4 separate regions of the Homo sapiens genome follow, and all the other regions are linked to region 1. Evidence: fine-mapped expression QTL. A gene starts in region 1. Each other region holds a variant in brackets. All regions are shown on one strand. Distances are from middle to middle.

Evidence for each region. PIP is the estimated chance that this variant, and not a neighbour inherited with it, causes the effect.
Region 2: its variant is the best candidate, but not a certain one, in a credible set for the expression of CYP4V2 in pancreas (GTEx, PIP 0.54).
Region 3: its variant is the best candidate, but not a certain one, in a credible set for the expression of CYP4V2 in whole blood (INTERVAL, PIP 0.79).
Region 4: its variant is the best candidate, but not a certain one, in a credible set for the expression of CYP4V2 in esophagus mucosa (GTEx, PIP 0.83).

The regions. Positions count from the first base shown.
Region 1 is chr4:186,190,015-186,192,700 of GRCh38, reverse strand. It overlaps CYP4V2 (cytochrome P450 family 4 subfamily V member 2), which reads right to left and starts at 1,134. Exons shown (of 11, transcript NM_207352.4): 1 at 664-1,134. The coding sequence starts at 877. FLJ38576 (a long non-coding RNA gene) reads left to right here and starts at 1,211. Exons shown (of 1, transcript NR_046264.1): 1 at 1,211-2,686. RefSeq lists a silencer at 808-1,337.
Region 2 is chr4:186,236,503-186,239,188 of GRCh38, reverse strand. It overlaps KLKB1 (kallikrein B1), which reads right to left. Exons shown (of 15, transcript NM_000892.5): 5 at 2,249-2,408; 6 at 824-933. It overlaps LOC124900873 (a long non-coding RNA gene), which reads right to left and starts at 784. Exons shown (of 2, transcript XR_007058497.1): 1 at 144-784; 2 at 1-24. The variant C/G (reference allele first, on the strand shown) is at 1,061.
Region 3 is chr4:186,162,958-186,165,643 of GRCh38, reverse strand. FAM149A (family with sequence similarity 149 member A) reads right to left here. Exons shown (of 14, transcript NM_001395294.1): 10 at 2,011-2,220; 11 at 180-300. Among named protein-coding and RNA genes, the nearest start is that of FLJ38576, 27 kb to the left of the region's middle. The variant A/T (reference allele first, on the strand shown) is at 1,369.
Region 4 is chr4:186,299,246-186,301,931 of GRCh38, reverse strand. The region is part of intron 1 of F11-AS1 (F11 antisense RNA 1); the gene reads left to right. Among named protein-coding and RNA genes, the nearest start is that of F11, 34 kb to the right of the region's middle. The variant G/A (reference allele first, on the strand shown) is at 1,370.

The DNA.
Region 1 (2,686 bases):
TGATTTTTTTCCATCAATAAAATGTCCATCTCTGTTTTAAAACATGATTTTAATTAAAAAATTCACTCTTTAATAAACAAGGCGTTTGACACCCTCCAAAGAAGTCTGCCTGAAGGCCCTGCCGTCTCTTAATTGTTATTATGTAACATCCTTTAAAGGGCTAAAGTATGAAGGTCAAGCGGGAACTGAAGCAGCAGTCAAGTCTTGTGATGCCGGGAGGAAGCGTCCAGTGAATCTCTAGTCTCTTATTTTCCAAAGTGGCAGCGAGAGGAGGGCGGCTCTGGGCGTTAAGGTGTTGGCCAGTTTAAAACCGCTCTGTGCTCCCAGGGAGCTTCTGTTCCTAAGGCTTCCCAAGCCAAGGCAGGAGGAAACGGCAGGGCTTTGAGAGCTGAGCAGCGGTGAGGTGGGAAAAGACCGAGGGCAGGGGTTTGGAAATACCGCATCCTGTGCTACACACAAAGAAAATGCTCACTTTGGGATGGGGCACTAGCAGTGTCGGCGGGTGCCAAGGGGCAACGACTAGAACTGGGAGTGCATTCTCCACAGGGTGACAGGCTCCTCTCTCCTGCGGCCAGCGCCACAAGCAGCGGGTTCCTGGCTGATCGGAGGGTGGGAACGGGGCTGCGGACCCCGTTGCGCTCCAGGAGGAGCGCCGGCCCTTACCTCGCCCGTCCGGCTTCATCAGCAGCGCGTGGCCCACCAGTGGGTAGGCGCGGGCCACCGTGGGGATGGGCCGCATCTGCTGCCATTTCCGCGCGTAGCTCGCCACCCTCTGCAGCAGGCTCAGGACCAGACTGGCGCCGGCCAGGGAAAGGGCACTCGCCGCGCCCCACAGCAGCAGCTTCTGCCACACGAGCCCCAGCCAGAGCCCCGCCATCGCCCCGGCTGGCGGCCGCGGGGTGCACTCCGGGAAAGTGCGGGCCCGCGGGGGCGTGGTGCGAGGCGGTGCCGGCCGCACACCGCCCACTTCCCCGCGCGGACCTGGCGCGCTCCCCGCTGCGGGGTCGCCCGGTCCCCGGAACGACGTTTCCCGCCCGGGCGGCGGCCAGAGAGGGCGCCACGGGGCTGTTCCTGCGCCCGGCCCGGCCTACGCAGCACCGCGGCCTCCACGCCCCAGCCGAAAGCGAAAGACCGGAAAACGGTTTCCGGGCCCCAGGGCGTAGTGATTGCACTGGAGGCCCGGAGGCTGCGCCGGGAGGAGGCCGGCGACACTTCCGGCCGCCTCCGGATGCGGGGTCAGGGGCGTCGGAAAGGTCACCGCGGCAGCCCGGCGCGCCCCAGCGGGGCTGTTCTGAGGGTGCTGCGAGGTTGCTCTACGTGCGGGATTCCGCGGGCGGGCAGCCTGCTCTGGAGAGGAAAGGAAGGCGCATCCGGCTCGGAGCCCAGCTCTGCTGCGCATCGCTCGCTCCCTGCGCAACTTGCAGCCCCGGGAGGCGGGGCGCGTCCTGGCTCCCGCGGGGTCACATGGAGCAGCGGGCGCTGTAATCCAGGGAGGCTTTGGGGACACGTTAGGGAAGTCAGCTACCCGTGTGTGTCCGCTGGCCCACTGGGACACTGGGAGCTCAATGAGGTGGTTATGAGCCAGGTATTTTCCAAAATACGCACCAGGCACCAGACCGAGGAAGCCGGAGCCCCGGAGAGCACGCAGGGGCGGGTGGGAGAGGAAGGCGGGCGAGGCTGCTCAGCGGGTGCCGGGAGACCGCAGCCGCGGGGTACTCGCAGAAGAGCCAAGACCTGCCACCCAGCCCGGGAAGGGAGGGAAGGGCCGCGAGAGGGTGCCCCATTTCAGCCTGGGGAGACGCGTGTGCTGGCCGCCAGTCTCTCTTCCCGGCAGAGGGCCCCAGTGCTGACCCCAGCCCCTTTTCCACGCTCGATGCTTCTTACAAAGTGGCCGGGCGAGGAGTGTCGCTCCCCGAGAGGCCAGGCCCTTCCTAAACACTAAAGTGCCAGGAAGATGAAACTGAATGTCCTGGATGCCCGCTTTGCTTAATTACTAATTACGTTCGTTCACTCGAAGCCACTGCATAAGTTGGCCACAGCCACCTGCAGGGCCTCTTTAGTGCAGAGAAAAACATGCCTAAGGCTTTTCTCCATTTGAATTTGTTTTAAGTCATCTGCATGGGCTGACGTGAAATAGCAAGTGAACAAAACAAGTTGCAGAACGGAGTGTGTAAAGTAATGCCTTCTTTTGGAGAAAAGGTTTCTTTCTCTACGGCTCCACTAATGTCTGCAAGTAAAAATACTGATCAGCTCTATGGAGTGGGAATGAAGATGGGGAACTTACGCTTTTTATTTCATTCACGTCTACATTGTTTAATCACTTTAACACTTTAAAAAATAAATATGTTCACTTAGTATCTTTAAGCAAGTCTCATGGGCTTTAGTTTCCTCCTCTCTAAAGGGTTGAGGCTGAGCTATAATAAGGTTAATTACAGCTATAAAAGTAAACAATTTGTCTACATACTGGGGATTCTAAAATAGGGGGAGGAAGGAAGGGGAGTAATGGTTGAAAAACTGTGTATTGGGTACTGTGTTCCCTATTCAGGTGAGGGGATCAATAGAAACTCAAACCTCAGCGTCAGGCAAATTTAACAAACCTGCACATGTGCTCTTGAATCTAAAATTAGAAAGAAAAAGGGTTTGTCTGTATCAGTCTCTGCTAACCTCTGTGGATAAAACCAGGCGG
Region 2 (2,686 bases), 46 kb before region 1:
TATCACTGTCCTATGTCACTGTACCTATAACTCTAACAGTATCACTGTACTAGTTTCCTATAACAGTATCACTGTCCTATATCACTGTACCTGTAACAGTATCACTGTACTAGTTTCCTATAACTATAACAATATCACTGTACCTATAACTCTAACAGTATCACTGTACTAGTTTCCTATAACTATAACAATATCACTGTCCTATATCACTGTCCTATAACTCTAACAGTATCACTGTACTAGTTTCCTATAACTATAACAGTATCACTGTCCTATATCACTGTCCTATAACTCTAACAGTATCACTGTACTAGTTTCCTATAACTGCTGCTCTAGGGGCATAACCACAAACTTAGTGGTTAAAAACAACACAAATTAATTATCTTACTGTTCTAGAGATTGGGTCTTACTGGGCTAAAATCAAGACATCAGCAGGGCTTCTTCCTCCAGGACGCTCCACAGGGAAACTCTTTCCTCGCCCTTTTCAACTTCTAGAGGCCGCCTGCATTCCTTGGCTCACGGACCTTCATCTTCAAAGCCAGCAGTGTAATACCTTCAAACCTCTCTCTCTGGCTCTGAGCCTTCCGCCTCTCTCTTTTTCTTATGAGCCTTGTGAGCACTCAACCCTGTGAGTACATTGGGCCCATTCAGAAAATCCAGAGTAAACTCCCCATCTCGAAGCCCGTAACTGCATGCCATTGACAGAAACGCTTTTGCCAGCTATGGGAACACACGCACAGGTCCCAGGGCTCAGCACAGGGACGTCTCTGGGGGCTCCTATTCCACCTACCACAATCACAAAGTGAAGTAGTCCTACAATTACCAATTTCTGAAAGGGCACAGGGCTTCAGTGAGAATCCAGATTCCACGTTACTCAGCACCTTTATAGCGGTAGGTGTTCCTCCGGGACTGTACTTTAATAGGCAATTGTTCCTGAATGGGAAGAAAAGAGGTTACTTTGCTTTCTGCACTTTGAGGGGCAGGGAGCAGTGCAGGTAACAGTTAGTATTAAAATGCACAGTGGAAAAACAATGACCCTGATAATGAGTGGGTTAGGGGT[C/G]TGCATTATTAACCTAATGGACATCCTTCCCCTCGCAAAGGGGTAAAGGAAAAGTTAGGGTGAGAATGAGGCAGGAGACTCCGTGACACTAAACCCTCATTCTATAAGCAAGGCCTATGTGTGGGGCAAACGGAACTTCAGGAAAAATGACACCAAAATTCGCTTCAGGAAAGCGAAAAATGACACAGACTTCAGAAAATGACTTCAGAAAAAATGACACCAAAATTTTGCTTCAGGAAAAAATGACACCAAAATTGAGTAGAGCATGGAGCGATAGACAGTAGAGACTGGGAAGGTGACAGAGAGGTGGGAAGGGGGCGGGCGTTGAAAAATAGCTTAGTGGGTACAATGTACATGACTCCAGTGATGGATATACCAAAAGCCCAGACTTTACCACTGTAAAATACATCAAAGTAACAAAATTACACTTGTACCCCATACATCTATGCAAATAAAAATAAGATTTAAAAATAAGGAAAAAAATCACAAGTTAATATCAAATTGTGATTAGCTCTATGAATGAAATAAACAGAGCTGAGTGTGACTTAAAAGAGAATGCTCAGAAATGGGCTTTTGGAGGGGACGGTATTTGAGGAAAGACCTGCAAGAATCAGCTTTGGAGAAGTAGGGGAAGAGGATGTCAGGCTTTGAAGATGCGGTACAATTACATGCCAGGGGAAAAGAGTAGAGAAACAAATGAAATTAAATGAATTATTTAATTAAAAAATGAAGGGCGAGGCGCAGTGGCTCATGCCTGTAATCCCAGCGCTTTGGGAGGCTGAGGTGGGTGGATCACAAGATCAGGAGTTCGAGACCAGCCTGACCAACATAGTAAAACCCCGACTCTACTAAAAATACAAAAATTAGCCAGGCATGGTGGCGGACGCCTGTAATCCCAGCTACTCGGGAGGCTGAGGCAGGAGAATCGCTTGAACCCGGGAAGCGGAGGTTGTAGTGAGTCGAGATTACGCCACTGCACTCTAGCCTGGGCGACAGAGCGCGACTCCATCTCAATAAATAAATAAATAAATAAAAGATAAAAAAATAAAATAGAGTAAGTAAATGAGGAAAGTGGTTAGAATAAAAGCCCTGTTTGGTTTTTAGTTTGGGAACAAAAGAGGTTAAGAAGAATACAGTGAAATCCTGGAGGCACCAATACAAAGAACACACACCTTGAATTGTACTCACCGGTACTCTGCCTTGTGAAATGTTTGCGTGGCATATGAAAAAAACTGGCAGCGAATGTTACTGGTGCACCTTTTTTGGCATTCTTCAACACTGCTAACCTTAGACACATTAAAATTGACTCCTCTCATATCAACTCCTTTATAAATGTCTCGATGGCAAGCTGTACAAGAAAAATACATAGAGCAAATACAGTCCATTTTCTTTCTAGAGGTAGATTAGATACCCACTACCATTTGGGTTGGTAGTTTAGAATGATAATAGCCCAGTTTTGGCAACTGCTATATTAACTAAGGGATTTAAAATTTTTATTATGTACATAAATTATCGAACTCTGCTTGAAGTAAATACAATCCAATATTTTCCCTAAAGCACTAGCTTTGAAATTGGGTTACTTCACTTCTTAAACTGCAAGATGCATGCAGCAATACAGGTAAATTT
Region 3 (2,686 bases), 27 kb after region 1:
TCCCTGTAAATTCTCATAAGCCATTCATTTACTTTCTGGAAACAGATTATGAAGGCATTTGAATACAGCTACTCAGATCTCATGTTACTAATTTCACTTGGAAGTGCCAAGGTTGTTTTTGTTTGTTTTCCAATACAGAACCTAAATGGTCCACTGAAATAGAATGAAATCTGTCTTACAGAAACAAGGCGGCATCCAGGAACTGCTGTATTCTGCCCCCTGGTCTCCGTGACTAGCGGGGGGAACCTGCTCCGTGACGTTTGAACCAGTGGGGAAGCCATGTGGTCCACGCCAGTCGGCCTGCAACACATCATCATGTCACTGAGCACCCAGGTACATGGATAACTGGCAAGTGACAGGAAATCTGCCAAGAGCTGTGATTTCAATGTTTCTGCGTGAGGGGCACACAGGAGGTCTTTGATTTCTGCTATGTGTGGTATTATCCGGATGCTCCCCAGGGAACTTATAGCACTCTGATAACTATGGGAAAATGTTATCTCAATACAAGTGAAAGACAGAGGATGGAGGTGAGAAGACGCAGAGCTGGTGTGTGGGGGGGTCAGAGGGAAAGTGAGGCTGGCAGGTGAGAATCCAGGCGGGTGAGAAGCCGGGGGACACAGGTGAGGTAGCATCACCAAAGGGGGTGGGCACTGGCCCCTCTGAAGCCACAGCTTCCCTCGTATGTGTAGAGCACAGCTATGCACACAGACAAACAGGCTGTCTGTGGGACTACAATTCCATGTGTAGGGAGAGCAATTGGGAAGAATGGTCGAAAAGGGCTCCTCAGGGTGGCAATAATAAAAAGAAAGCTGAAAAATCAGCAGCCCACAGGGAGGGAGGGGTCAGAACACAGAGGGATTTGTACAGTTAGTGGCATCTGAATGTATCTCAGTAGGAAACATAAATGGGTTTCTATTTGATGAAGGTGTGACAGGGGGCCCAGGTAGGCTGGGGCAGGAGGAGAAAGCCTGCCATGTGTTGCTGACTGGCACCGTGTGCTGCTGACTGGCATGGGGGGAAGCGAGGCGGAGGAGGGAGAGGGATCTCGAAGGAATCAGCACAGCAGACCCAACACAGCTGGAAACATCAGTCCCAAACTGTGAAAGAAACAGTCACCAATTAAAAAGCTGAAAGGGGGGTTATGACTGCATCTGGAAAAAGTCTGGGTGCCAGGTAAGCGTTGGCAGCCGCCCGCTCCTGAGCTCGGCTCCTGATAACAGCTCCCCTGCAGGCCGGGGGTCCAGTGGGTGGTCTCTAAAGCCTGAGAGCACTTGTGGGTGTGTCCGGCTGGGCCTCTTCCTGGCGGGGATGATCTCCGGCAGGCTTAGCCTGTTCCCTCATCTCAGATTTGGGATAGTATGAGTCCCA[A/T]CAATATAAAGTTTTGTGGTGGGGAATAAATAAGATCATAAATGTAATTCATTTACCTGGCGCTGATAACAAAGAAAGTGATCAATAAACATTAGCTATTATTATCAATGTAAGTATTGGCCGATACTGGTAAGTTAGCTGGAGGGCAAGAGACAGGCACCTTTCTAACGAGGCCATGACGGGATGTGAATCCTGCAATCAACAGCTTTGCTGAAACTCCCACATAGAGAAAAATGCATCCTTAAAGATAATCCGATAGGGACACAGTCCTTTTATTTTTATAGCATTTTATATACATTATTTTATTTAAACCTCCCCTTGAAAAGTATTAATTATGTAATTGAAAGGCATTAGCTAATTATTTGTTTCACAGATGAGGCCACTGAAATCCACCCAAGGTCCCCCAGCATCAGAGGCTCATTCCGCCTGTGTGACAGGGACATTGCCTGACCTTGTGTCCTAGGATACAGCTAAGTAGACCACTGGAGCAAGCGGAATGTTAAATGCTCAATGAACTCATTAGAAAAGCATCTATGTAAAACTAGGTAGGGATGCTTTGTCCAGGATGATCCATAAACCCTAACTGAGAAGCATCTAGGTCCTCCGTGGCCTTTAGTTTACTATGAAAGAAATGAGACTCACAGTTTTGTTCCCCGAAGAACTTCGTCACTATAGATGTTGGGAGTTTTTAGTCTCTGTGAATCTGAAGCAAGAGAAGGCAGCCTCCAGGGCACTGGTGTTTTCTTTGCAGAAGGTGATAATCCATGAGTGTCTGAGGCCCGTCCCAGTCTGTGCGGTGCGGAGGAGAGAGCACCTGCCCCTCCACCCGATGCTTTGTCCTCCTTCTCATTCCTGGGAAGGAAATCCTGTGAGCTACTCAGCTGCGAGTGCTGTGATAACAGGGAACGCACCTGTCTGTGCTTAGTTGAGCACTGCCTAGAACAGTCTGGCACCTAGAACATACTCCTAAGCACGGGTTGAATGAATGAAAAGACCCATCATTTCTGTTTCTGTTTCAATGAAGAATCATCCACAGGCAGAGGGCTAAGGTTTTCCCTGTCAGTAATCAAACAGTCAAGCCCACAAGATTAAGAATTTCAGGACTACATTCCCCTTTCCCCATCTCTCCCTACCAAATACACGATAGTAACTGTTTTGTGGTTGGTACTAAAGGGTCTGTTTCTGCTCTTCCAGACGTGCTCAGGCACATCTGAAGCACGGGATTAAATGGGACCTTCGTGATCTCATGTCCCCTGCAGTCTTCAGTGCTCCAGTGTTTGCAGCACAGGGAAGAGGCTGGGTAACTACTACTGATTCT
Region 4 (2,686 bases), 110 kb before region 1:
CAACTTCAAGATTATAATCAACAAAAGAAAAAATAAGATATACTGGACATCATCAAAAATAAATACTTCTGTATTTCACAAAATACCATCAAGAAAGTGAAAAGATAACCCATAGTATGGCATAAAATATTTGCAAATCATGTATCTAACAAGGACTAGTATCCAGAATATGTAAAGAACTCACAACTTTGTAATAAAAAGAAAATACCCCAATTAAAAATGGAGAAAATAAGTAAATAAATATTTCTCCAAAGAAGATGTACTAATGGCTGATAAACACATAAAGATGTTCTCAACATCATTAATCCTTGGGGAAATGCAAATCAAAACCACAATAAGATACCACTTCACACCCACTAAGGTGGGCTTAGAATCAAAAAGACGGAATCATCGATGTTAGCCAGGATGTGGTGACATTGGAGGCTTCAGACATTGCTGGTGGGAATGTAAAATGGTGTAGCTGCTTTCAAAAACATCATTCTTCAAAATATGAAACATAGTGTTCCCATATGACCCAGAAATTCTGCTCCTGGGTACTACACACTCAACAGAAAGATAAACGTGTCTACACAAAAACTCATACATGAATATTTATAGCAGCATTATTCATGATGGCCAAAAAGTGAGAAAACCCACATTTCCATCGATGAATGGGTAAATAAAATGTGTATAATTATACAAGGGCAATTCCTTTTTATTATATGGCAATAAAAAGGAATGAAGTACAGGCTTTAGAACATGGTTCCTCCTTGAAAACAAGGTGAAAGTGAAAGAAACAGGTCACAAAACACCCCATGTTGTATGATTGCATTTATGTAAAATGTTCAGAAGAGGCAAATCTACACATAGGTATGAGGTTTCTTTGGGGGAGTGATGAAGATGATAGAAAATTAGATTAATGATCACACTACTCTGAGAATATACTAAAAATCACCGAATCGTCATTTTAAATGGAAGTTTGGGTATATATGAATTATGTATCAATAAATCTGCTTGTTAAACAGTGCACACTATCAAGATGACTTACCACTGATGATGTTACCTCATCAACTAGCCTGTTTCTCCTCTGTAAATTACCTTTTCACTCCTATCCATGCTCTACTCCCTAAGCAAGGGATAGAGGGTTAAGCTCCACATCCTTGAGAGAGGAGAAATGGTGTAACTTACCCGGAATCCTGTACAGCGGATTTCTCTCTTCTCTCTCATTATTTTGTTCATTCAATCATTTTGTATCAGTATGAACTCATGGATATTTATTTTTTACTTTAAGATGTAATCCAATGCTAGATTATTCATTCTGTCACTCAAGTTATTCCAGTTTTGGTTATTGGGAATTCTTTCAGGTTGGGGCTTATGTAATTATAAGTAA[G/A]TTACTTCTTTACAATAATTGTTAAATTGACCTGAACAGATCTGAAAACAAACACAGCCAATTTCAAATGTTTTGATTCAGCTGAATAGAAGAGACCTTTCCTGTGTGCACCAAAAAGTGGCCTTTGAGCATTTTCTGAGTGGCGAGATCAGTGCACGGCAAGAGTAAGGCCATCTTGAAGTGACTGTCGGACCCCTGCTCACCAATTAGTTCCTCAGAAACAATGCCTGTGACATAGACAACCCCTTCAAACAAACAATGCCTGGGGCATAGACGACCCCTATAAACAAACAGTGCCTGGGGCATAGATGACCCCTATAAAGATGCTTATTCAACCTCCCCACTGGTCAGCAGTTTTGCAAGAGGGTCTGGTGCATCAGTCTTATAAAAGCTTGCTATAGAAAGAACGTTTTCTGGGCCAGGTGCGGTGGCTCATGCCTGTAGTCCTAGCACTTTGGGAGGCCGAGGTAGGTGGATCACGAGGTCAAAAGATTGAGACCATCCTGGTCAACATGGTGAAACCCCGTCTCTACTAAAAATACAAGAATTACCTGGGTGTGGTGGTGGGCGCCTATAGCCTCAGCTACTCGGGAGGCTGGTGCAAATCACTTGAACCCGGGAGGCGGAGGTTGCAGTGAGCTGAGATCGCGTCACTGCAGTCTAGCCTGGTGACAGAGCGAGACTCCATATCAAAAAAGAAAGAAAAGAAAGATAGGAAGAAAGAAAGAAAGAAAGATGAAAGAAAGAAAGAAAGAAAGAAAGAAAGAAAGAAAGAAAGAAAGAAAGAAAGAAAGAAAGAAAGAAAGAAAGAAAGAAAGAAAGAAAAGAAAGAAAGAAAAAGCAAGCAAGCTTTCTGGAGGGCAGCTGTGGGATAAGTCCCTATTCAACGCTCCTTTCTGAGAGTCTGGATTTGTCAGCCTCTTTCCTCGGCCTCTCTGCACCCCCAGGCTTTGGGGGTGGGCTTGCATGGGTCTGCCCACTGGAACACAGGGTGTTTCCTGGTATGTGTGGGGAGTGCTGGCAGTGAATCTGAACATCAGTTAAGAGTCTCAACTCAATTTAGTTACTCATAAAACTAAGTCTAACGTGCAGATAAGAGATATCAATGCCCGCAGATGCAATTGTCTGCTTTTTCCACTCATTTTGTTAATGCCCAGGCAGAGACTTCCATGCCTTCAGACACTCCTGCCTGCACCCTATACTCCCCTCTCTACAGGCCATGAAAATAGGCAGTTACAGGCCTGGAAATCAATCGTAATGATTACTGTTGGATAAATTGGATAATGAGTAGGACAATGAATTTCACTGGTTTGTTTC